5 separate regions of the Homo sapiens genome follow, and regions 1, 2, 3 and 4 are each linked to region 5. Evidence: fine-mapped expression QTL. A gene starts in region 5. Each other region holds a variant in brackets. All regions are shown on one strand. Distances are from middle to middle.

Evidence for each region. PIP is the estimated chance that this variant, and not a neighbour inherited with it, causes the effect. A credible set is the group of variants that fine-mapping cannot tell apart.
Region 1: its variant is the best candidate, but not a certain one, in a credible set for the expression of FRA10AC1 in prefrontal cortex (CommonMind, PIP 0.90).
Region 2: its variant is the best candidate, but not a certain one, in a credible set for the expression of FRA10AC1 in hippocampus (GTEx, PIP 0.73).
Region 3: its variant is the best candidate, but not a certain one, in a credible set for the expression of FRA10AC1 in prostate (GTEx, PIP 0.79).
Region 4: its variant is the best candidate, but not a certain one, in a credible set for the expression of FRA10AC1 in sigmoid colon (GTEx, PIP 0.56).

Annotation. Positions count from the first base shown.
Region 1 is chr10:93,739,734-93,744,733 of GRCh38, reverse strand. No RefSeq gene overlaps it. Among named protein-coding and RNA genes, the nearest start is that of LGI1, 16 kb to the left of the region's middle. The variant AT/T (reference allele first, on the strand shown) is at 2,413.
Region 2 is chr10:93,723,016-93,728,015 of GRCh38, reverse strand. No RefSeq gene overlaps it. Among named protein-coding and RNA genes, the nearest start is that of FRA10AC1, 23 kb to the right of the region's middle. The variant A/G (reference allele first, on the strand shown) is at 3,053.
Region 3 is chr10:93,745,956-93,750,955 of GRCh38, reverse strand. It overlaps LOC101927013 (a long non-coding RNA gene), which reads left to right. Exons shown (of 3, transcript XR_246160.5): 2 at 972-1,149; 3 at 4,849-5,000. Among named protein-coding and RNA genes, the nearest start is that of LGI1, 9.5 kb to the left of the region's middle. RefSeq lists enhancers at 872-1,854, 4,201-4,952. The variant C/T (reference allele first, on the strand shown) is at 2,571.
Region 4 is chr10:93,732,223-93,737,222 of GRCh38, reverse strand. No RefSeq gene overlaps it. Among named protein-coding and RNA genes, the nearest start is that of LGI1, 23 kb to the left of the region's middle. The variant T/C (reference allele first, on the strand shown) is at 2,291.
Region 5 is chr10:93,700,433-93,705,432 of GRCh38, reverse strand. FRA10AC1 (FRA10A associated CGG repeat 1) reads left to right here and starts at 2,841. Exons shown (of 14, transcript NM_145246.5): 1 at 2,841-3,058. RefSeq lists an enhancer at 2,553-2,852.

The DNA.
Region 1 (5,000 bases), 39 kb before region 5:
AAGCTAAACCCACAGAGTTCCTGCCTTCTAGTGGAGGAGATGAGCAATTAAACAAGAGAAAACAAGTGCGGTGAGGGTGATGTGCAGGCTGGCGGAGCAGCAACAACAGCACAGAATCCTGACTACGGTTTGAACTAAACCTAAAGGGCCCCGACTCTGCCTTGATCTCTCCAGAAAGCCTCCCAGGGCCCTGACTTCCCTGTGCATGTCAGGTGACCACGGTGGTGGGCAGCTTCCCACCTCAGCCTCTTCCCTCAGTGAGATCTGGGAAACCTCCTCCCTCCTTTGCCTCTGAATTCTCACAAAGAGGACCAAGGGTTTTGAGGCATAGTTTTTAGGAAGAAAACAGGGAACAAGGAGAATAATAATAAAGAAGAAAAAAAGTACAAGAAGTAAAAGGTATCTTGCCTTACTGGGCCTTGGTTAGGTGCTGAACATTGTGCTAAGAATCTTTCGATGTATATTACAATGTGTTGTTCATTTCTCTGAGGTTGATATTGTTGATATGTCCATTTTTCCCGATAAGGAAACTGAGGGTAAAGAGGAGAAAGAAATAGGTCATAAACTTCACCAAAGGCAGAGCTATTATTTGAACCCAAGAAAATGTGAAAGTTAATTGATCATTTCTTAAGGGCAATTTTATTTTGTTTTTTGCAGGGGCAGTAGAGGGAGACGTTGTTGTTCCCAGAAAGGGGCCTTTAGGGAGAATAAAGAAAGGAATCCTTGATAGGGGTGCTAAATCCTCCAGTACCTGGTAGTGCTGGCCACAGGAGGAGCTCAATAACTATTGAATAAGGCAGTGAGGGAGGGCATGAGGAAGGGAGTGAGGGGATGAGTGTGGCCCCTCCCAGCCTACCAGGACCTGTATGGCTTTTCTCTCATGAATCCCAGTCACGAGCCAGCTGCCTGCATCCTCTTTTCTTCCATCTTGCAGCTGCCAGGCGTTTAGGGTAGCTTGGTGGTTGGTTTCCACCACTCTCCTCAGTCCTTGAAATCCTCATTCTTACAACACTCGCTGTACCTGGGACTTGGTCTCCATGGCTTTTCCAGATGTTACTGCCCTGGAAGTCAATCCCACAGGACCATTTTATTTTAAGGGTCAGAGGGCTATAGTAGTTCAAGACCCCGGTGGATGCCTGAAACCATGGATAATACTGAACCCTATTTAATTGTGCTTATATGGGTATTGATGATATAATATTGCAAAATTACTGCAGACATTATAATTACATAAAAAAAATAGTAAGTTGAAGAATAATTCCATGACAGTAAATCAGTCTAAAATAAATTAAAATAGAAAACTCCAAATTAATGGCAGCAAGTATATTTAAAAAATAAGAATATGAGTAAAAAGACAAGACCTGACAAAGGAGAGTTTCAACACTACAGTTTATGTATATATTATACTAAGTTTTGATTTTTTGTTCGTTTGTTTTTGAGACAGGGTCTTGCTATGTTGCCCAGGCTGGAGTGCAGTAGCTATTCACAGGCATGATGGTAGCTGATTGCAGCCTCAAACTCCTAGGCTCAAGGGATCCTCCAGCCTCAGCCTCCTGAGTAGCTGGGACCAGGGCAGCATACTCTTTTTGATCTGATAACTGAGACGGCTACTAAGTGACTAACGGATTGGTAGCGTATACATTGTGGATACACTGGATAAAAGGATTATTCACATCCGAGGGTGGAGTGGGAGGGTGCAAGATTTCATCATGCTACTCAGAATGGTGCTTAATTTAAAACTTACAAATTATTTATTTTTTAGAACTTTCCATTTAATATTTTTGGACCTCAGTTCACCGAGGGTAACTGAAACTTCAAAAAGTGAAACTGCAGATAACAGGGAACTACTGTATGACAAACAGTAAATATGAGGAAGTTGTAGAGGTTATGAAACCTTCCCAACCACTCCACGAATGACCTACTTTTAGCTCTGGCTATCATATAGTCTCCCCAGAGTCAGACGACAGTCTTGCCACTTGCCACCTGGGTAGTGGTGATCTTTAGCAGGTTACTTAATCTCCCTAACCATGTCTGTAAAATGGTCCCCATCTCCTCAGGTTGGAGTGAGCATTAAAGATGGTTCTGTATTTGAAATCTCTTAGTACAAAGAAAATGCTAAATAAATGTTGTCAAGGACTGAATTTTATCCCCCCAAAATTCATGTTGAAGCCTTAACCTCCAATGTGACTATATTTGGCGATAGCGCCTTTAGAAAGTAATTAAGGTCAAATGAGGTAAAAAAGGGTGGAGCCCTAATGCAGTAGGATTTCTGTCCTTAGGAAAAAGGGGGCCCGGCGAGGTGGCTCACACCTGTAATCCCAGCACTTTGGGATGCCAAGGCAAGCAGATGGCTTGAGCTCATGAGTTTGAGGCCAGTTGGGCAACATAGTGAAACCCCATCTCTATAAAAAA[AT/T]ACAAAAATTAGCCTGGCATGGTGGTGTGCACCTGTAGTCCAGCTACTTGGGAGGCTGAGGTGGGTGGATGGCTTGAGCCTGGGGGTGGCGGAGATTGCAGTGAGCCAAGATGTGCCTCTGCACTGCAGCCTGGGCAACAGAGCCAGACCTTGTCTAAAAAAAAAAAAAAAAAAAAAAGAAGAAGAAAGAAAAGAAAAGAAAAATGGAAGAGACACCAGAGGTGCACATGCACAGAGGGGAAAGGCCATGTGGGGACACAGACAGAGAGTGACTGTCTGCAAGAGACCTCAGGAAAAACCAACCCTGCCAACACGTTGATCCTGGACTTCCAGTCTCCAGAACAGTGAGAAAATATATTTCTGTTGTTTATGCCACCCAGTCTGTGATATTTCGTTATGGCGACCTGAGCAGACTAATACACATGTTCAGTCTACTTCCTTTGCTTTCCTTGTTGTTTGAACACATTTGCCAGGCAGTGTCAGAGCCCCTGTATTGGGAAGTGGTCAGTGTGTGGGTTGGTAAGAAGAATTTACCAAAAACAGTATAGATTTGAAAAAGGAAAGTTTTAGAAAGAAAGAATGCTGCAAAAGGGTGCAGCGGGGCACCTCAGTGAGAGAGGACTGAGCACACAGTGGTGGATTTTCCTTAGGAGCATTTATGGACCTTAAGGCGGGAGCTTAAGGGTAATTTTGACCATATTAGCCAGGTAGGTCATGATACATGATTACATCTGTAGACATTTTGGTGCCTTACTGTCAGCAAGGGTTGCACAATGAGTTTTGACATGCATGCATTCTGGAGGTGTATAGAAATTCTAGTTATGACATTTTTGAAAGAGATCTAGATGCTGACTTTAGATACTAGGGAAGTTTAATTACTTCTAAATTCCTCAGATAAGGAGTTTTTGTCTCTGGAGACTGCTCGATGGTCACCAGGTGATTTTCCTCTCCTCATTTGCTCCCTGACAAATATCTTGGTCATATCTTTGACCCTTTATATTTATATTCCCCCATGTTCATGTCTACCTGCTGCCTCCTGGGGTCTCAAGAAAGGGAAAATGGTCCAGTGAAGAGGGGTGATGAGTCTGTCTGGCTACTTCCTCCTGAAAGGGGGCTTTGAGGGGATAAGTTGCGTTTTTCTCTTTTTTGCTCTGTGTCATAAAGGAAATGAAGGGTCATGAAAAACTCAGTCACGAGGGGTGGGGACTGGATTCTATCAAGAGGCCCCGTATAAATGGAAGTTGCTGTTGCAGGCCAGTATTGAGACTGCATAGTCATCTGTAGGTGGAATCGTTGTATTCTGGAAGATACAAACTTAATGAGAGCATTAAAAATGCAGGGAGCAAATATTAAAAGAAAAATGACAAGGAAAAAAGGTCCAAGGAATGGGAGAAGCCCAGTCTTGGTTACTTTGGGAAAGTGTGTATAACCATTTGGCTTGTTTGAAAATTTACTGGGACATTAGTTTCCACTTCTCCAGACAACAGATTTTGTTGATGACAGCACAGACTCCTCCTTGTTCAGGTGGAGGTAATCAAGAACTCATCTATTATCAAAAACCATTTCTGCTAGTGAGTATAAAGACTTTTCTAGTGCTGATAGACTTGTGCCAGTTTTTTCTAAGATTATTTAAAAGGAGATGGTAAGTTCTTGTAGTGTGATTTCACGGTAAGTAAAACCTCCCCAAATAGTGACAGTTGTGATAGTTTCCACAACTCTGGCCACAATAAGTCCTAGGACCCTTTATCTTCTGGAATGGAATTCTGAATTGGAAGTTATACTCCAGACAGTGATTTGGGTGGGAGCTATTGTTCCTAGAGTACAATCATCAGAACGAAGGGAATTATCAAGGTAGAATAGGGCCAAAACTTGAAAAGGGTTTAAATAATTATTGGCAGAGCCACAAAGTCATAAGAGTCCATGAGGGGGCAGGTATTATAGTGTGATGAGCTTATGAATGCATAAAATATATGTAGATATGAATCTATTTTATCATATACTAGTGCAAAACATACACAAATCTATTATACAAAGTTAAAATTTATCAAATCTTACACAAACACTTATGGACCATACATGGTGCCATTTGCAGTCAACAGAAATGCAGCCAAGCATGGTGGCACATGCCTGTGGTCCTAGCTGCTTGGGAGGCTGAGACAGGAGGATTGCTTGAACCCAGGAGTTCAAGGCTACAGTGAGCCATGATCGCACCACTGCATTCCACCCTAGGCGACAGAACGAGACCCTGTTTCAAAACAAACAAACAACACCCAAAAACATAAAGATGTGGTATTAAGTCATAATTGCATAAAATGAACCGTAGTAATACTATGCTACTGTAATAGTCTTGTAGCCAACTTCTGCTGCTATTGCAGTGAGCCCGAATGTTGGGAGTATTCACTTAAAACACCGTGTGACACTATCATCTCCATGTGAGCCGTTCGCTTCTCTAGTAAATTGCATATCGCAGTAAAAATGATTTCCTGAGATTCGTGCGCATTTTTTCATCATGTTTAGTACAGTGCTATCAACCTTGAATAACACCATAGGACCCATACAAAGTTCCACTAGTGATGCTGGAAGTACT
Region 2 (5,000 bases), 23 kb before region 5:
CCTAAAAATCTCTAAGAATCTTTTAGGACTGTCAATAGTTATCTGTCTTGATACTGTAGTAATATTAAAACAAATAGGGTCTCATTCTAGATAACTGAACTTTATGGTTTTTGCACTGATGTAAAGCAACACAAACAGCAGACAACAGAGCCCTTTGGTGGACTCACCAGACTTTCTGGTTTCTTCTATGAGGTAATATTAACTAATTAACAATGAATAAGTTAATCACTTTGGACTATCTGCTCCTGGTACTTCTATCAGGGTACTTCATGGGAAAAGTACCCTATAGGAGTAGGATAGGTTCCCCTGATCAATAAGATGAACTTCAGTTATTATGGTTTGAGCACCATATTAGTCTGTTTTCACGCTACTGATAAAGACATACCCGAGACTGGGTAATTTATAAAGAAAAAGAGGTTTAATGGACTCATAGTTCCACATGTCTAGGGAGCCCTCACAATCATGGTGGAAGGCAAAAGGCACGTCTTACATGGCAGCAGGCAAGACACAGAATGAGAGCCAAGTGAAAGGGGTTTCCCCTTACAAAACCGTCAGATCTTGTGGCACTTATTCACTACCATGAGAACAGTATGGGGGAAATCGCCCCCATGATTTAATTGTCTCCCACAGGGTCCCTTCCACAACACCTGGAAATTTTGGGAGCTACAATTCAAGATGAGATTTTGGTGGGGACACATCCAAACCACATCAAGCACTAAAACAAATGAGACATTATTTTGCACCAAAGGTAGATGAAGCAGGACATGCCAATCAAATTGATGAAATAAAGCACCTTTAATTTTGTGTCTCATTTACTTCCTCAAATTTCTGATGTACTGAAATGATTCAGTAAGTGCATACTAAGGGCTTGTCATCTGCTGGGCACTCTTGAAAGTGCTGGAGTGTGGCAGGGAACCAGGTAGAATGGTCCCTAACCTCAAGGAGCTTCTGGTCTGTACCTAGAAGCTCTTGCTCTGTTTTCAGAGTCTCTCTTTTGCTGGTATCTGGCTATGATAGAGGGAATTCAAAAGCAGCTTTAAAATGTTTTCTGCAGAAGAACAAAGCAGTAGTTACCAGTATGAGAAGAGGGGAATTGCTACTTTGACACCTACAAATTGAAGGATGGATGCCTTTGTTTCACATCTGTTTTCTCCATGTGAGAAGCAGCCAGCTCCACTGATTGTGTACTGTTGAGGGTGACCACTCCATTTTTCTCTCCTGGAAACATGTAATTTAATGTGAAGCATCTATTGATGAACTGCAAGTATGAAGAATTCTCAGGATAATGTACTTGATTTTCCCCTTGAAATGCAATTCACATTTATTAAGTATCTTTTCTATACAAGGCATGGAGCAAGGTGCTTCATGCACATAATCTCATTTAAGCCTCACAGTTGCCTCTGAGGTAGGTGCATCATTAGCCAGCTTTTATAGACAGGATAAAAGGGAAAAGAGGAAATGGTAGCCCAGGATTCCAAAAAGTGCAAATTCATTTCCAGTGGATGAATACACTTATGATTTTGTTTCTCTTAGATGGGTTATGATAAACATCTTTAATATTAATACCTGCCTTACATTTGCATAATTCTTTCAACTTTTCAAAGCACCTCTTTTATACCTTATTTGATGCTCATGCTAAGCCCTATGCTCCTAACAGTCTCGAACTCCTTGATGGTGTCTCTTTGAGAGCCTAAATCTCTGCAGAGCTGGCTTTTGTTGCATAGCTAAGGTTCAGGACTAAGCTAATAAAAATCTTGCTTCCAGACATCTAATCTGCATCTTCATTTGCAAGGTCTCCTTGGGATGGTGTGACCTGCTGTTTAGTAAGGACATCAGTGCTCTCATACCAGTGATTACTATGGTTACATCTGCCCCAACATTCTCTAAAGCCCTAGATTTTAGAAATATTGGTGTCTTTACTACCTTGTCCTTGTCTGGATCTTCCTGTCATGCCTGAGTTAATGATAGCCAAAGGGAAAGGAATGAAATAAAAAGAAGGAAAAAGACAGCTCTGCGAGCTTGTACACTGAGGTGCATATATTCTCAAAAAAACCAGAAACCAGCCTAAATGAAGAGGGAGGGGATGGTGGCAGATGAAGCATAAAGCAGGTGCTTACTTAATTGCTGCAGCTGGTGCCAAGTGTTTGGCATAATTTTTCTCCTTATTTTCAATTATTGGCACTGTTATTTTACTTTTTAGCTGAAGCATCTGAGAACAGTCTAGGAAGCTTCTCTGCTCCTCTCACTTTTACAGGAAAGCAAGCAGGCATTTTTTTTCCTGAAAATATTGTAAATAAACACAATCCTTGAAATTTTTTCTTGTGCCCCAAAACAACTCATCGACTATAGAAAAGGAAGAGAAATTGGCTGAAATGCAATTTGACGTTTTCATTCTGCCAAAATTACTATGGGTTGAATTTTTAATTTGATTCAGAAGACGATTCAACTCTTCAGCCTCATCTATGTGATTTTGATTTCAGAATAGCATGTCTGAGACCAGAGCTTCCTAAGCTGTTTTCTTTTAAAACACAGATTGTTAAATTCTCCAATTGACATGGCATATTCATTTTGCTATTTGACTTTTTTCTTTTAAGTAGTGAAGGTAAAAGTTGCAAAAATATTGGATGAAAGTCATTTCATGCCCTGTTATTCCACCAATTTTTAAGAAGAGTAAGCGCTGTGCCAAAACCTTATATAGAACAATGTGCAAAAAACAATACAAGGACCCATGAGGAATGCAAAGATAAACAAGATGTAGTCTTTTTCTTTCAGCAGATTTAGTCCTGAAAGGAGAATAAAATGAGTACAAGCAGTAACATAACAGTTTTGAGGGAAGTAACAATGATATGCTAAAAAAAAAACAGCACACGTCTATCAATTACTTTTGATGGCAGATCTAACATAAAGAAAATAAAAATGTTTCATCTTTCTCCCTTTTAAAGTAATTCTGCTTAGAGAATGCTATTTAATCACTGTATTTAAGGTGACATTTGAATTCTGAAGGTTTTATCTCCTATTGACTCTATTCTAGAGAGAGAGAGAGAGAGAGAAT[A/G]CGCATGTGCACAGTTTTGAGCAGAAAAAAATATTTTTATTTTAGAATTTTGTTTCAGATTGCATTTCAGGAAAAGGAAAGGAGAAAAATCGTGCTCCCAGAGGGCATTGGGAAATGTGGGTTACAGTCTTGTTTTCACCTTCAGCCATTTGTGTTTCTGGGTTCCTGAGTGCTTAGGCTGGGTTACTCCAAGTTTCCTTTCAGTCTTCATAGTCTGAGTGTGATGCCTCGCATCTTGTCCTGAATGAATCCAGTGGCTTTCCCATAGGGAGCAAAGGAAACTGAAGGCTTGAGGGAGTATCCAAGGTGCCAGGAGGTGTAGGGAAGAAAGAATGGTACTACTGGATGAGACACTCTTGGGCCTCTCGGTTTTCTTAACTTCCTATTTAAATACTTCATCATTTGTAGAAAGCCTTAAGTTCAGAGCCATTCACAATTTATACTGGGTCTGATTCCTTTTCATTCCCACTGTAGCATTGGCTTTTAAGAATGTAGAAGCATGGCCTAGCCAAAATATATATATATATGATTTACAGGCTAGTTAGAGTTTGTGCTGAGCTGTGTCTGCAAATAAGCCTTTAAGGTAAATGAAAGAAGTTCTAAAGAACCTGAAAAGGAAATGGGAGAGAGTGTGATGTGACAGTGAGGAATGTCATTTTTCTCTGTGGTTCTTTCCTGTCTAATTTCACAGCCAGCAACCTGGTCCAGGCTCTAATTAACCACATGTCCATAGGCTGCTGCTGATGCTCTAACAATATCCAGTCTTCAGACTGTTCCTGTCCAGTTTACACATCATTGTCCTTCCTCAAACACTCCCTTCACCATGGTGCTTCCCTAGGCAGTGATTTATTATGAGTCCTTGTTACCTGGTACAACTCATCTCTTTTGTTTATTTACTTATTTATTTATTATGATTACATATATTTAAAGTATACAACATGGTGTTTTGATATACATAGAGCTAGTGAAATGATTACTGCAGTCAGGCAAATTTACACATCCACCACCTTGCATGGTTACCTTTTTGTGTGTATTTGTGGCAGAAGCTTCTAAAATCTATATTAACAAATTTTTAGCATACAAAACAATATTATTAAACTCTAGTCCTCATGCAGTCCTTTAGATCTCTAGACTTATTCCTCCTACCTAACAGCAAGTTTATACCCTTTGACCTACATGTCTCCATTTTCTCCCAATCTCTGCCCCTAGTAACGACCGTTCTACTCTCTATTTCTATGTATTGGACTTTTTAAATATCCTACATACAAGTGAGATCATGCCATATTTTTCTTTCTGTGTCTGGCTTATTTCACTGAGCGTAGTGTCTGTAGGTTTATAAGTGTCACAAATGGGGATATCTCCTTTTTTTTTTAAGGTTGAATAATACTTCATTGTATACACAAGAATTGTACCACACTTTCTTTATCCGTTCATCCACTGATGGACAGTTAGGTTGTTTCCATATCTTGGCTATTTTGTGAATAATGCTGCAGTGAACATGGGAGTGCAGATTTAGCACTATGAGGTGCTAATTTCATTTCCTTTGGGTATATACCCAAAAGAGGAATTGGTGGATCATATGGTAGTTCTATTTTTAAGTTTTTGAGGAATCTCCATACTGCTTTCCATAATGGTTATACAAATTTACATTCCCATCAGCAGTGTGTGAAGGTTCCCTTTTCTCTACACTTTTTCTAACACTTGCTATCTCTTGTCTTTTTGATAATAACCATTTTAATATGTGTGAGGTGGTAACTTACTGTGGTTTTGACTTGCTCATCTCAAATCTTTAGCCCAGGGTTCGAGGTCCTTCATCCAGGAAGCATGGTATTAAAAATAGGAGACTGAGCTTTAGTTTTGGCCTTTGCAGCTTTAAAGCTGTATGATTTTGGGCAAGTTGTTGAACTTGAACTTCCCTTGCCTTCATTTTCCTCTTCTGTAAAATGAC
Region 3 (5,000 bases), 46 kb before region 5:
GTTTATCAAGATTCCAAACCTGTCACGGAATGACACCCAAGCGAATGGGAAGAAAGGCGGCAAGTTCTGCCTTTAAAAGCCTCCTTGTAGAGACCTCCGCACTCCCATGTTTACTGCAGCACTATTCGCAATAATCAAGATATGGAATCAAGTTAGATGTCCAACAACAGATGAATAGATAGAGAAAATGTAGCATATACACACCATGGAATACTATTTAGCCATTAAAAAACAGTGAAATCCTGCCATTCATGGCAACATGGATGTTGGAACTGGAGGACGTTATGTTAACGGAAATAAGCCAAAAACAGAGAGTTAAACACCACATGTTCTCATTCATACGTGGAAGCTTAAAAAAGTTGATCTCATAGGAGTAAAAAGTAGAACAGAGGATACTAGAGGCTGGGAAGGGTAGGGGGAGGTGGAGGGCATACAGAAAGTTTTGTTAAAGGACATAAAATTACAACTAGATAGGAGGAATAAGTTCTAGCGTTCTATACCACTGTAGAATGACAATAGTTAACAATAATAGAGTTTCAAATAGCTAGAAAGAGGATATTGAATGTTCCCAACACAAAGAAATGATAAATATCTGAGATGATGGATATGCTGATTACCCTGATGTATCAAAACATCGCTATGTGCCCCATGCATATGTACACTTATTATTTGTCAATTAAAAAATAAATATTTAAGAAAGCCTCCTTGAAGGCAGTACCCACAATTTATTTATCTTTTTATGCCCTTGATTAAATGATCATTACCTAGCAGAAACAGTTAAAATGGTCTTATAAAAGAGAAAAGTTAGTTTAGAGATGTGGGCTGGTACTTTGCTCTTAAAAAATAGAGTTTTTCTTAATTTTTATTACCAAAGTTAAGTATGCTGAATTTATACATTTCTATACCTGCCTTTAAACTCAAGCAGAACCTGAATTAACCATTGATTGGAGTTTATTGCTTATGTCCCCAAGGGAAGCGCCTCCTCTGGCTCATGCTGGTGGGAGAAAATGAACCAGCCCTGCTTTCTCTCCCTGGTTCAATTCCCAGCAAAGGAAAAACAATGTAATTCATGATGATGATGACAATGACAATGACGACAACAACAATAACCAACCTTTAACACATCCTTATAATGTGCCAGACCCTGCGGTAGGTGCATTAGAATAATTACCTCATTTAATTATTGTAACATAGTTTGGTTAATTTGCCCCCATTTTTCATATGAGCAAACTGAGGCATGGAGAGGCTAGGCAGCTTGCCCAAGAATAAGAGGCTGTGCTGGCTTGAAAGTGAGGCATTCAGACATTAGTGTCACATGCTCTTAATCGCTCCACAGCACCATCTCCTTGGATCGGAGTGATTTCCTGGAGCAAAGGTAATCTGATCTTATTCACACAGGAGCAGGCAATAACTGCCTGAGTACAGAACTCCTATGAGGCGATTGGTGTTGGAACCCTGAGTAGTCTAGTTACATAACCAGCATAACCCTTGGAAAAGCTGTCGCATAAGGGAAGGCTGCCTCTGGGACTAGAAGAAAGACTATGCCAAGATCTGGTTCTGCAATAGATGAGCTGTTTGACCTTGGGCTCAACGCTTCACATTTAGGCTCTGATTTTCAAAGGAAGTTCTTGGGCTGGGTAATCTCTGGAGATCCTGTCATGTAAGCAGCCCCTGCCAGCACTCCTACTGGGGAGTGATTACCATAAAGACAAGGAAAGTGTTAAGCAGGTTCTTGCACCTCCCAAAGTAAGTAGCAAATAGCTGTTTGGGTGTCCTGAGGAGTTCTGAAAACACTGGGCCTAGTTGCCTCCTGCTTCATCTTGCACCATATGCCTGAAGCTAGTGAATGAATAAACATCACTCGTGGCTATTTCTGGATGCTCAAGAAACTTTGAAAAAAAAAAAAGAATTATTATTTTTGAGGAGAGTATTATAGAAGACCCAGGGGAAGACAGGGTAGGGAGGAGAGTGAGGATTCTCTTTGTTGTGATCCTAGAATTCCCATTAGGTGGACTGGAAATGCTAGACTTACCATTGTTGGACTGGAAATGCTAACATCCTGAAACTCTTAGGACCTCTGCATGAAGAATTGTCCTGCCCCAAATGCTCTTAGCACCCCCACTGAGAAGGAGTAAAAGAGTTTCTCACAGTGGAAACACTGCGAACCTCTTTATGCATTTTTCTGAACATCAGTCAATAATCCATTAACTCGGGGAAGCTGAATGCTCTTCATACAGGAATCCAAAATAAATTGACAGATATCCTCTGGGAAGAACTGTAGAAAGGCTCTGTGGGCTTGAACAAGGCATTTCATTTCCTTGGGCCTCAGTTTCTTTATCTTTATAGCACTAACATTCTATAGCTTCCTAATTTCTCTCCCCAGAAAGGAGAAATAATTTTTAAACACAGAGGCTTAGAAAGAGTTTGTTTTCCAATTCGGGGCATGCTAGGTACATGTACTGCAGTTAACCAAAATGCACATGGTAAAGTTTAAGCCAAAAGAATGCAGAATCAGGCCGGGCATGGTGGCTCATGCCTGTAATCCCAGCACTTTGGGAGGCTGAGGTAGG[C/T]GGATCACAAGGTCAGGAGATCGAGACCATCCTGGCTAACACAGTGAAACCCCGTCTCTACTAAAAATACAAAAAATTAGCTGGGCATGGTGGCGGGTGCCTGTAGTTCCAGCTACTCAGGAGGCTGAGGCAGGAAAATGGCGTGAACCCGGGAGGCGGAGGTTGCAGTAAGCTGAGATCGTGCCACTGCACTCCAGCCTGGGCCAGAGAGCGAGACTCCATCTCAAAAAAAAAAAAAAAAAAGAAAAAAAAAAGAATGCAGAATAAAATTATCCCAGAATATTTTTAATAAGGTATGATCTTAATGACTTAGCATTTTTTTCTGGAAATATATTTGAATTTTATCAGAACTAAGCACCAAAAATTTAGGCAAGGTCATGGAAGGCCACCCTTTTTACTGGCTAGACTTGAATAGAAATCTACTCAAGAAAAGAAGTTTGTTAGGGAATTAAAAAAAAAGGATAATTCTAAGTCATGGGCAAGGTGGAAATAATCTAGCCAGAAAATATATTTGGGGGTGGTACTAAGGAAAAGCAGTGGCTCTAAGAGGTATTGCCCTAGAGCGGGGCATGGTTATTGGAATATAAAGTTGAAAATATGATTACTCTTCTATCTTCCTCTTCTTCTTTATGGCTGAATCACTCCCAAGATAGTTCTTAGCAGGTTTTTATTTATTTATTTATTTATTTATTTTTATTTTTGAGACAGAGTCTCACTGTGTCACCGAGGCTGGAGTGCAGTGGTGTGATTTCAACTCACTGCAACCTCCGCCTCCTGGGTTCAAGCGATTCTCCTGCCTTAGCCTCCCGAGTAGCTAGGACTACAGGCCTCCACCACCATGCCTGGCTAATATATATATTATATATATATATAGTATTTTTAGTAGAGACGGGGTTTCACTATGTTGGCCAGGCTGGTCTGCAGTTCCTTTTTTTTTTTTTTTAAAGATACTTCTTCATTCTTTCGAGGAAGTTATTAACTGCTTTTGTTTTGTTTTAGTTTTTTGGTTTAAGATTCTGAAGTTAAGAGGAAAATCATGCAACTAATCTGTTCATGCTTTGGAAACTTGAACTTCATGATGTTGGATTTCAGCCTTTTTGCTTTTGTCTTATCCCTTTAGAAGGGATCTGTTTTGTTTTGTTTGGCTTTATACTGTCGTTCTGGAAGAACTCAGAGCTTTCCATTGCTGCCCGTGACTTATGGCCTGTGTTACACCCATTGGTTTCTGTAGGAATGATGACCCAAGAAGCTGGGAATGTGACCGCAGAAAATAGCAAAGCAATGAGGAAACTGGTTATGACCATAGGATTAGTGCCCTGAGGGTCCAGGGCAGAAATGGGTGTTAACAGCAGAGAAGCACAAGGCTTCTGCACCAGCCTACTGCTGGCTCACATTCAACACTGCCCCTATTGCTCCCAGCAGTGCAGCAAAGAAGACAAAGGAACCCATGCTTGCTGGGCCCCCTGCAGGCCAGGTGCTTCCCATACATTGTCTCTGTTGATCATTTCACCTGCCGTGTGAGCAAGGCATTATCCCCACTGAAGCTTACAGAGGTTAGACTCGTCCAAGACAATATATTTTGGCTTCAAACTGACTTCTGTCTGTTTCCAAAAATATTTTTCATGTGACTTATTTTTGATGTATATAAACTTATAGACAGTTCTTGAATTCTTGTCTATGTGAAGCACATATTGTGTGAAGTATTTGCATGGGGCCAGGCGCGGTGGCTCACACTTGTAATCCAGCACTTTGAGAGGCTGAGGTGAGCGGATCACCTGAGGTCAGGAGTTCGAGACCAGCCTGGCCAACATGACAAAACCCCGTCTCTACTGAAAATACAAAAATTAGCCAGGTGTGGTGGCAGGCGCCTGTTATCCCAGCTACTCAGGAGGCCGAGGCAGGAGAATCACTTGAAACCGGGAGGCAGAGGCTGCAGTGAGTCGAGATTGCATTACTGCACTCCAGACTGGGTGACAGAGAGAGACTCTGTCAAAAAAAAAAAAAAAAAAAGTCTGCATGGTATTGTTTGCTTATATGATGTTTAGAACAAGGAAACGACTGAGGCTGACCATGCTCTGGCTCTGGAGGCTCTCTGGGGATACCTGGAGGAGTCTTTGGGTCACACCAAAACACTAGGATGCAGCCTAATGTGAAGATTACAACTCAAGTCTTGGCTTTGCTATTTAGCAGCTGAGTGACCTTGGGCAAGTTTTCATTGTCTCTCAGCCTCAGTTTCCTCATATATAGCATGGAAATAATACTAGTGTTTCTCTTACAGGATCACTGTGAAAAGAACATGAGATGCCCTTTGCAGGGACATGGATGGAGCTGGAAGCCATTATCTTCAGCAAACTAACACAGGAACAGAAAACCAAATACTGCATGTTCTCACTTATAAGTGGGAGCTGAACCATGAGAACATGGACACAG
Region 4 (5,000 bases), 32 kb before region 5:
GTCATATATGGTCTTTATTATTTTGAGGTATGTTTTTTCTATAGCTAATTTGATGAGGACTTTTATCATAAAGGGATGGTGAATTTCATTGAATGCTTTTTTTGGCATCTATTTAAATAATCATATGGTTTTAGTTTTTGCTTCTGTTAATGTGATGTATCCCGTTTATGGATTTGCATATGTTGAACCATCCTTCCATCCCTGGGATGAATCCCACTTGATCATAATGAATGATCTTTTTAATGTGTTGTCAAATTCAGTTTGCTACTATTTTGTTGAGAATTTTTGCACCTATGTTCATCAGTGATATTGGCCTGTAGTTTTTTTTTTGTTGTTGTATCCTTGTCTGGTTTTAGTATCAGGGTAATGGTGGCTTTGTAGAATAAGTTTAGAAGTATTTCCTTATCTTCAATTTTTTTGGAAGAGTTTGAGTAAAATTGGTATTAGTTCTTTTCTAAATGTTTGGTAGAATTCAGCAGTAAAACCATCAAGTCCTGGGCTTTTCTTTTATGGGAGACATTTTATTACAGCTTCAGTCTTGTTACACATTATTGGTTTACTGAGTTTTCTATTATTTTCATGGTTTAATCTTGGTAGGTTGTATGTGTTCAGGATTTTAACCATTTCTTCTAGGTTTTCCAATTTCTTGGTGTATAGTTGTTCATAATGTTACATAATGATTCATTGTATTTCTGTGGTCCTAGTGGTTATGTCTCTTTTTTTGTTTCTAATGTCATTTAATCTGGTCTTCTCTCTCTCTTTTTTTTTTAGTCTAGCCAAAGGTTTATTGATTTTGTTTGTCTTTTCAAAAAAACCCAACTTTTTGTTTCATTGATCTTCTGTACTGTTTTTAGTCTCAATGTCATTTATTTCTGTTCTGATATTTATTATTTCTTTCCTGCTACTAATCTTGGGTTTGGTTTATTCTTGCTTTTCTGGTTCCTTGAGCCGCATCATTAAGTTATTTATTGGACGTCTACTTTTTAAAATATAAATGTTTGTTGTTATAAGCTTTCCCTTTAGTACTGCTTTTTCCATATCCCATAGATTTTGGCATGTTGTATTTCCATTTTCATTTGTTTCAAGAAGTGTTTAAATTTCCTTCTTAATTTCTTCATTGATCCATTGGCCATAATTTAATTCAGAAACTATACAAACACATAGAAATTAAACAACATGCTCCTGAATGAGTTTCCTCTTATTGTTGATTTCTGGTTTTATTCCATTGTGGTCAGAAAAGATACTTGATATGATTTCTACTTTTTTGCATTTGTTCAGACTTGTTTTATGGCCTAAGATATGGTCTATTCTTAAGAATGTTCTGTGTGCTAATGAAAAGAATGTGTATTCCACAGCAGGTAGGTAACATATTCTGTGAATGTCAGTTAGACCTATTAGGTCTTGTGTGTAGTTTAACTCTGCTATTTCTTTGTTAGTTTTCTGTCTGGAAGATCCATTCATTACTGAGAGTGAAGTATTAAAGTCCCTTGTTACTATTGTATTTCAGTCTGTCTCTCCCTTGAGATCTATTAATGTTTGCTTTATATACTTGGGAGCTCCAGCGTTGGGTTGCATATATATTTGTAATTGTTATATCCTCTTGCTGGATTGACCCCTTTATAATTATATAGTGACCTTCTTTGTCCCTTTTTACAGTCTTTGATTTGTAGTCTATTTTATCTAAGTATACCTCCTCCTGGTCTTCTTTTGGTTTCCAGTTGCATGGAGCATCTTTTTTTACCCCTTCCCATTCTGTCTATATATGTCTTTATAGGTGAAGTGGGTTCTTGTAGGCAGTACATATTTAGGTCTTTTTTAAAAAAAAATCTACTCTGCTGTTCTATGCCTTTTAATTGGAGAATTGAGACCATTTATATTCAGTGTTATTATTGATAAGCAAGGACTTACTATTGTCATTTCGTTGCTTATTTTCTGATTGTTTTGTAACTCCTTGCTTCTTTTCTTACTGTCTTCCTTTGTGGTTAAGAGATTTTCTCTGGTAGTATGTTTTAATTTGTTGCTTTTTATTTTTAGTGAATCTATTACAGGTTTTTGCATTGTGGTTACCATGAGGCTTACAAGAAATATAGATATAAAAAGTTATTTTAAAGAGATCATAACTTATCTTGGATCATAAAGAATAGAAACAAAAAAATGAAAAAAACTATGCTTTAACTCCATCCCTTCCACATTTGACTTTTAGTTATCTCATTTACACATTTTTATATTACCTATCTCTTAACAGGTTGCAGTAGCTTTTTTATATAGATTTGTCTTTGGGGCTTCGTAC[T/C]ACAGTTATGAGTAGATTGCACACCACAATTACAGTATTAGAGTATTCTGGGTTTGTCCATGTATTTAATTTTACCAGCGGGTTTTATACCTTCGAATGTTGTTGTTTCTGCATGTTAACTTTTTTTTCAGATTGAAAAACTCCCTTTAGCATTTTTTAAGAGACAGGTCTGGTGGTAGTGAATTTTCTCAGCTTTCGTTTGTCTAGAAAGGTCTTTATCTCTCCTTCATTCGTTTTTTATTTTGTTAGTTTTTTTGTGGTATAATATTCATAATATAAAATTCTAATTTTAACAATTATTAACTATTCACTTCAGTGGCATCATATGCATGAACAATGTTGCAAAAATGTTATTATTTATTTTTAGAACTTTTTCATCATCCCAAACAAAAACTCTTTTTTTCCCTCTCTTTTTCATATTTGAAGAATAACTTTGCTGAATACGGTACTCTTGGATAGCAGTTTTTTTTTCTTTTAGCACTTTGAAAATGTCGTTTCACTCCCTCTTGGCCTGTATGGTTTTCACTGAGAAGTCTGTTGCCAGACAAACTGGAGCTCCTTTATATGTTATTTGCTTTTCTTTTGCTGCTTTTAGAATTTTCTGTTGTCCTTGACATTTGAGAGTTTGATTATTATGTGCCTTGGGGTAGTTTTATCTGGGTCAAACCTGTTCTGTATTCCCTGAGCTTCCTGTATCTGAATATTTATGTCTTTCTCAAGTTTGGAAAGTTTCTGTTATTATTTCTTTGAATAAGCTTTCTAACCTTTGCTATTGTTCAACTTCCCCTTCATCACCAATAATTCTTAGATTTGGCCTTTTGAGGTAGTTTTCTGTATCTTGTAGGCAATCATTGCTTTTCATTCTTTTTTCTCCTTTGTCTGTGTGTTTTCAAATAGCCTGTATTCAAGTTCACCGAGTGTTTCCTCGACTTGATCTATTCTGCTGTTGAAAGCCTCTAATGAATTTTTCAGTATGACAAATGTATTTCTCAGTTCCAAGATTTCTGTTTTTAAAAAATTATTTCAATATCTTTGTTAAAATCCTCTGATAAATTTCTGAATTGCCTTTCTGTGTCATCTTGGAGATCACTGAATTTCCTTAAAACTGCTATTTTGAATTCATCAGATAGCTCACATATCACCATCTCATTAGGGTCAGTTACTGGTTTCTTTGCTTTGTCTATTTGGAGAGTTCATGTTTCTGTTTGCTGTTGTTTCTTGTGGACCTACATCTATGTCTTTGCATTGGAAGATCGGTTATGTATTTCTCCTCTGTCTGGCTTGTTTTGGTTTTTATTGGATATGTTTGCTTGAAGTTTCTTTACTGCTAGGTCACAGCCTCCTTTTTGGCTCTAGGTGGTGCCTTAAGCCCAGGTTCACTTTGGCTCCAGTAAACGATTATAGCACTGTCCTTTCCAAATAGGGGAGGTCCCAAAGGGGATGCACTGGTAATTTGGGAAGGCTGTCTAGAGGTTTGTGCCCAGGGGACTTGTAGGATGAATCCCCTACAATGTGGCAATGCAGAAAAGCTGCTCTGTTTTGGTGCCTCCTTTGGCTGAGTGAAACAGCATAGTTTCCAGGGCTGTAAATGGCAGTCTTAACTCCCCTCTTTGTCTCTGCCTGTTCTCGGGAATATTTCTCCCTTCAGGTGCTCATGATGCTTCCCATAGGTTAAGGCAAGGAGAGGTCTCCTGACAGGGAAACCAAAATGTTGGAGAAACTGGTTGTCCACCTCAATTTCACTTTTTTGAGGGGGATATCTTTCTGTTTTGTGCTGGGAAGAATGGAAGGAGGGGTACTGCAGATGTGGAAGTCTGAGTATATTACCATCTGCTTAAAGTTTATTTATTTTTATTTTTTTAACTTCGCTGTGGCCCCAGAAACTCTCTCATGTTGATATTTTGGCTCTGGGATATTTCTGGTTATGATCTCAGAGCTGTATATTTGTTTTTGGTTTTCTGTTGGGGAGAGTGAAGCAAGCTTGTTTCTACATTACCATTTTGGAATCAAAAGCTGAAATACCCTTTAATCTTGTATTGAAAATACAGCTTTTACGTGGATGCAGGACTGCTATAAGAAAGGCATACCCATAGACTCTAATATGATTAGTGAAAAAACAAAGTCCTTACATAACAAAGCATAAGGAAGGTGAAGGAACTAAAGCTGGAGCATTTAATGCCAGCGAAGTATGGTTTGATAATTTTAGAAAGAGATTTGCCTTTAAAAATGTCAATATAAGAGAATAAGCAGCCCTTACCAACCAAGAGGCAGCAGATAAATTCCTGGACACTGTTAAGAAAATCATTGAGGGCTAAGTGCAGTGGCTCACACCTATAATTCCAGCACTTTGGGAGGCCAATGTAGGCAGATCACATGAGGCCAGGAATTCGAGACCAGCCTGCCCAACATGGTGAAACCCCAACTGTACTGAAAATACGCACACACAAAAAAATTAGCCAGGCATGGTGGTGTGTGCCTGTAATCCCAGCTACTTGAGAAGATGAGGCAAAAAAATCACTCGAACCAGGAGGCGGAGGTTGCAGTGAGCCAACTCGTGCCATGGCACTCTAGCCTGGGTGACACAGAAAGACTCTATCTCAAAAAAAAAAAAAAAAATCATTGAGGAGAAAGAATATCTACCTGAACAAGTTTTCAGTGCAGATGAGATTGTGGATATGGCAAAAAAAAAAAAAAAAAAAAAATGGAGGGA
Region 5 (5,000 bases):
CAAAGCTGTGGCCATAGGTATTAGCTTATGTTAGAGAAGTGTCAGCATCATATTATAAAAAGAACATGGAAAATGCAATCTTCTCAAAGACACACAGTATTAGAAGAATGCATATTCAGCCAGGCGCAGTGGCTCACCCCTGTAATCCCAGCACTTTAGGAGGCCAAGGCGGGATCACTTGAGGTCAGGAGTTCGAGACCAGCCTGGCCAACATGGTGAAACCCTGCCTCTACTAAAAATACAAAAATTAGCCAGGCATGGTGGCTCACACCTGTAGTCCCAGCTACTGGGAAGGCTGAAGCAGGAGAATGGCTTGAACCCGGGAGGTGGAGGTTGAGCTGAGATGGCACCACTATACTTCAGCCTGGGTGATGAAGTGAGACCCTGTCTCAAAAAAAAAAAAAAGAAAAGAAAAGAAAGAATGCACATTTGTTGGGCGCGGTGGCTTACGCCTGTAAGTCCAGCACTTTGGGAGACCAAGGTGGGTGGATCACCTGAGGTCAGGAGTTCGAGACCAGCCTGACCAACATGGTGAAACCCCATCTCTAGTAAAAAAATACAAAAATTAGCCGGGCGTAGTGTGCGCCTCTAGTCCCAGCTACTCGGGAGGCTGAGACAGGAGAATTGCTCGAACCCAGGAGGCAGGGGTTGGAGTGAGCTGAGATCACGCCACTACACTCCAGCCTGGGTGACAGAGTGAGACTCGGTCTTGAATAAAAAAGAATGCACAGTCATAGTTTATATCAGAATTATTACTTGGTATTATCACCACCATCATCACCCAACTTCCCTCATCCTGACCACATACTTAATATAGTATTTTGTTGCTTTGAGTTACATAGCATTGGTGCACATTTAAATTTTCATATCCATTGAAATAACATATTTTATAAATTAGGAACAACAGGTTCATGCATGTACTAGACACTTGGTATATGATAGAATATATTGTTGTAGTTATTCCACACATTGTCTGTCTTACTAGTCAACCTTCAAGGATAAGGAGTTGCTGTTACATACCTGTAACCCTGATGTCTAGGGCAGTGTCCTGCCCAGAGTAGGCACTGAATAAATGTTTGTGTTTTTTATTGTTGTTGAGCTATAATTGTTAACTTGAGATTTCCTAAGCAGGTGGGTTTTCTATCCTGTATTATTTCTAGTTCAGATCATGCAATCTATGCCTAATATATATTTTCTATTTACTCTTTTTCAGTAACTGCTGTCTCAAAGTAAAAAATGGAAATCTTTGCCTGAATGGACTGGTAGCAACAGATCTGAAATTCTTAGAAATGTTGGAACCAGAAGCTACTTCCCACACAATCCATGAAGTGGGGGAGAGAGAGACAGAGAGAGAGAGAGAAAAGAGAGAAAGAGAGAGAGAGAAACTGGGTCTTATAGAGAGACAGACACAAGTACTACCCAGTTCTCGACCCTCACCAGGTTTGTGGCTTTAGGTTCTGTGCCTCTCTTCCTTATGTGTAAAATGAGGCTAATAACACAGCAGCACAGGGTTGTTGGAAGAGTAAAATGAAGCAACAAACAAGAAGATGCTAGGGATGGTAGAAAAATGCTAATAAATGTCAAATATGGATAGAAAGGAAATTGGATATGAGGTATAGGTCTGTTTAGTTTTATTAACAATAAAATAATTATATATTTAATATATTTACCAAAAAAGAAACTGCTTGACAAAATAATTCCATATACTATAACGTCAAATTGTAAGGCTTCCTATTGCTTTCACTTTTTTTAGTAAAAGTTTTTATTGAAGTATAATCTGATTGCATTTTGGAATAAGTTAATTTACAATAATTTAATTTATCTTATAGCCTTTTAAGATCACATTCAGTGCAATGGATAAAGCAGAATGTATCTATAATTTATTGTCAGGGTTAGAGACTTGAACTGATAAGGATATCGTTATCTACTGTTTAGGGCAAAAGATGTAAAATGACTGTGCATTAAGTGCCAAGGTTTTCTCTAAAAAGGGCCCACTGTAAACGCCAGAAGCGTGCCAGTTCAATTCAACAAATATTTAATTAGCACTTGTGATTTCCAAGGCACCGTTTTGGGTACTGAGGAGGAAGCAAAAAATGAATAGCTGCTAATGCCAGCGAGAGACAAGACATGAACCAAACAACTAGAGTGGAAAGAGTGGGGCGTCGTGATGTAGAAAACGCAAAGCACAGGAAGAACCTAGTGGCGCTTAAAATAATCCAACTTTTCCTGCCTTTTTTCTTCTTCTTTTTAAGATTCTATTTTGGATCCCTTTTCGCATGTGCCAGGTCGCTTGTCGGCAGAGAATCCTCAACCCTGAGAAATCTCTCCTCCTATTCTTTCTTTCCTCACAAATTCGATGAGCTCTTCTGCCATCAGCACTGCTTTTGGAATGGTATCTATTGTGTGGGTGGCGAAACGATGGAGAGATATTTTTGTTCTAATTATGAGAACTGTTTTACTGGGGGAAGGAGGGAGAGGCTGATCTGAAGCGCTGATGAGCTGCTCTGAGAGGATCCTCCGAGGAGGCGTTACTAAGGTTACTAGAGAGAGGACGGCAGGTGATAGGCACGGTAAAACAAAATATATTTTCAAATGAGAGGCGTGGGCTAAGCAGCAAGCAGTGCCAGCGGTACTAGATGCCGGATTCCCTAGAGGGGAAAGGAAGGAGGCCCAGGGAAAAACTGGGAGCCGCGACTTGGCGAAAGCTGGAAGCCTCTTCGTCCCTTTCCGGGCCGTTTCTCCCGCTGCCCTTGTTTCCCGGAGCTGTTCTGGCTGTAGCACAAGGTCGGCGCACTCGGGGGACGGTGCCATTTAGATGTAACACGTGGCCGTGTCGGACCGGAAGTGGTGCCCAGTCGGGACCCGTAGGGAGAGGCGGGTTGCGGGCGGCGGCGGCGGCGGCGGCGGCGGTGGTGGTTGTGGCGAGGCTGTGCGGCAGGGCGCACGGGACCTGTGCTGCAGCGGCTCTCTCAGGCCGTGGGTCGTCGCTGCAGCTGCCGGGAAAGAAGGAAACGACGACTCCGGGGGCGAACTTGGCACACAGGGAGGAAGGGAAAGGGTGTGTGAGGAGGGCTGTGGGTATATTTGGCATCAGGGAGAAGGACCTCAAAACTTGTTTTTCATATAGTACTAGCTGATCGTCGGGTTTTTTTTTGTTTTGGTTTGGTTTTTTTTTTTTTGGATGACAGATTCTGGAGACACCTGGCATCTCCGTTTTTGAGTTTCTCCCCGCTCTTGTCAGTTGATTCGTAGGCCTGAAGTGAGTGAGAGCTTTTTAGTTCAACCAGTGAGTTAAGATAGGTATGGGTCGGATGGAGCGGCCAGCGAATAAAGAAATGGGAGAGTGGGAGCAAGAATAGGAAGTCGTGTCCTGGGGCGAGGGAAAAGATGATGATGATGATGTAACATTTACTGGGTTTCACTGTACAAGACACCGTTAAAACCCTTTAGATGAGGCAACTCTTTTAATCTCCATTCGTATGAGGTCAGCCATCTTACTAGCCTCTTTTTATAAATGAGGACACTGAGGCTTGGAGAGGTTAAGGAACAGGCCCAAAGAAAGACAAATGGAAAGTGCAGAGCCAAGCAGTGAAATCTAGTAGGCTGATCCTAGAATATATCTCTAAACACACTACAGCTGTCCCCCATCAAGATGTAAAGAACGTGAGGACATAGGACAAAGAGTGAGAGGACAATATGGCTTGAACAGATGTGGTAAGACAGCTGGAGTTGACCTAAAAAAGGGTGTAAAATCCAGGTGTGTAAGGCAATAACAGATGTAAGGGAGGGTAGAGTTGGAACTCGGGCTTTCAAACCTTCATCTCCAACCTTAACTAGCATCTTCCTATCTAGGATTTTAGTGGGGCAGAGAAGAGAGGTATATACCCACACACCTATGTTTGAAAATGGAATTACAGACTTTAAAGGTTATTTAAAGATTTAAACAACTTAAAGATTATTTCATGTAGCTATCTTATTTAATAGATGAAGTCCAGGGAGATGAAATGACTTATTCAAGGTAGCCAGGACTAGAAACATGTCGTTTACCCTAGATCCAATGCAATGAAGTTTAGAGAGTTCTTTCCTCTTTTTCCAGCTGCACTTGCTGTCGTTATATTAGTTTTAACAATTTGATATATCATTTAACCTGGACTGTTCCTTCCAGCCATGTAAATTAGTTATGTATGACATCAAATAGTCCATCCTTCCTTCTTAGTGTGTGTTCCAAATTCAGTGCAAAGCTGGAACTAGGAGCTTCTTCCAATACAATTGAGTGGCAACTGAGGTCTTCCAGCATTTCTAAGAATTTCAGTTCTAAAATGAAGTCCCAGCATTTTGGGATGCTGAGGTGGACGGATTGCTCAAGCCCAGGAGTTTGAGACCGGCGTGGGCAACATGGCGAAACCCCTTATCTACAAAAAAAAAATTTTTTTAAGTTTGCCAGGTGTGATTATGCACTCCTGTAGTCTCAGCTACTTGGAGAGGCTGAGGTGGGAGGATTGATTGAGCCCAGGAGGTTGAGGATGTGAGCCATCAAGGCGCCACAGCACTCCAGCCTGAGCAATAGAGCGAGACTCTCCAAAAATAACTGGATAAATAAAATGAAACAAGAGAAAGCTGACTAATCCAAAGGGCAAGGTGGTTTACCTTAAAGAAACTCAAAAGAAAATGGAAATCTCTACATATATTGAAAAAGATTACAGGAAAATTTTCATCAATTGATGATGTACTGTTCACAAATACTGTAATTCTCCTGGAATATAGTAAATCATATTCCAGAGAGGAAATTTGGAGTAATTGAAATTGTGGGCGCAGGAATCAAGTACAGCAGATTAGCCACTTACTGGATTTGTAAATAGATTTACTTAACTTTGATTACTTCATTCCTAAATGAAGATAACTTTCTAACTTGCAGAATTAGAAGTGTTGTTTGTAAAGTATTTAACACAATGTCTAGAACAAAGTTGGTGATAAACACACAGTGATTATTACTACTCTGA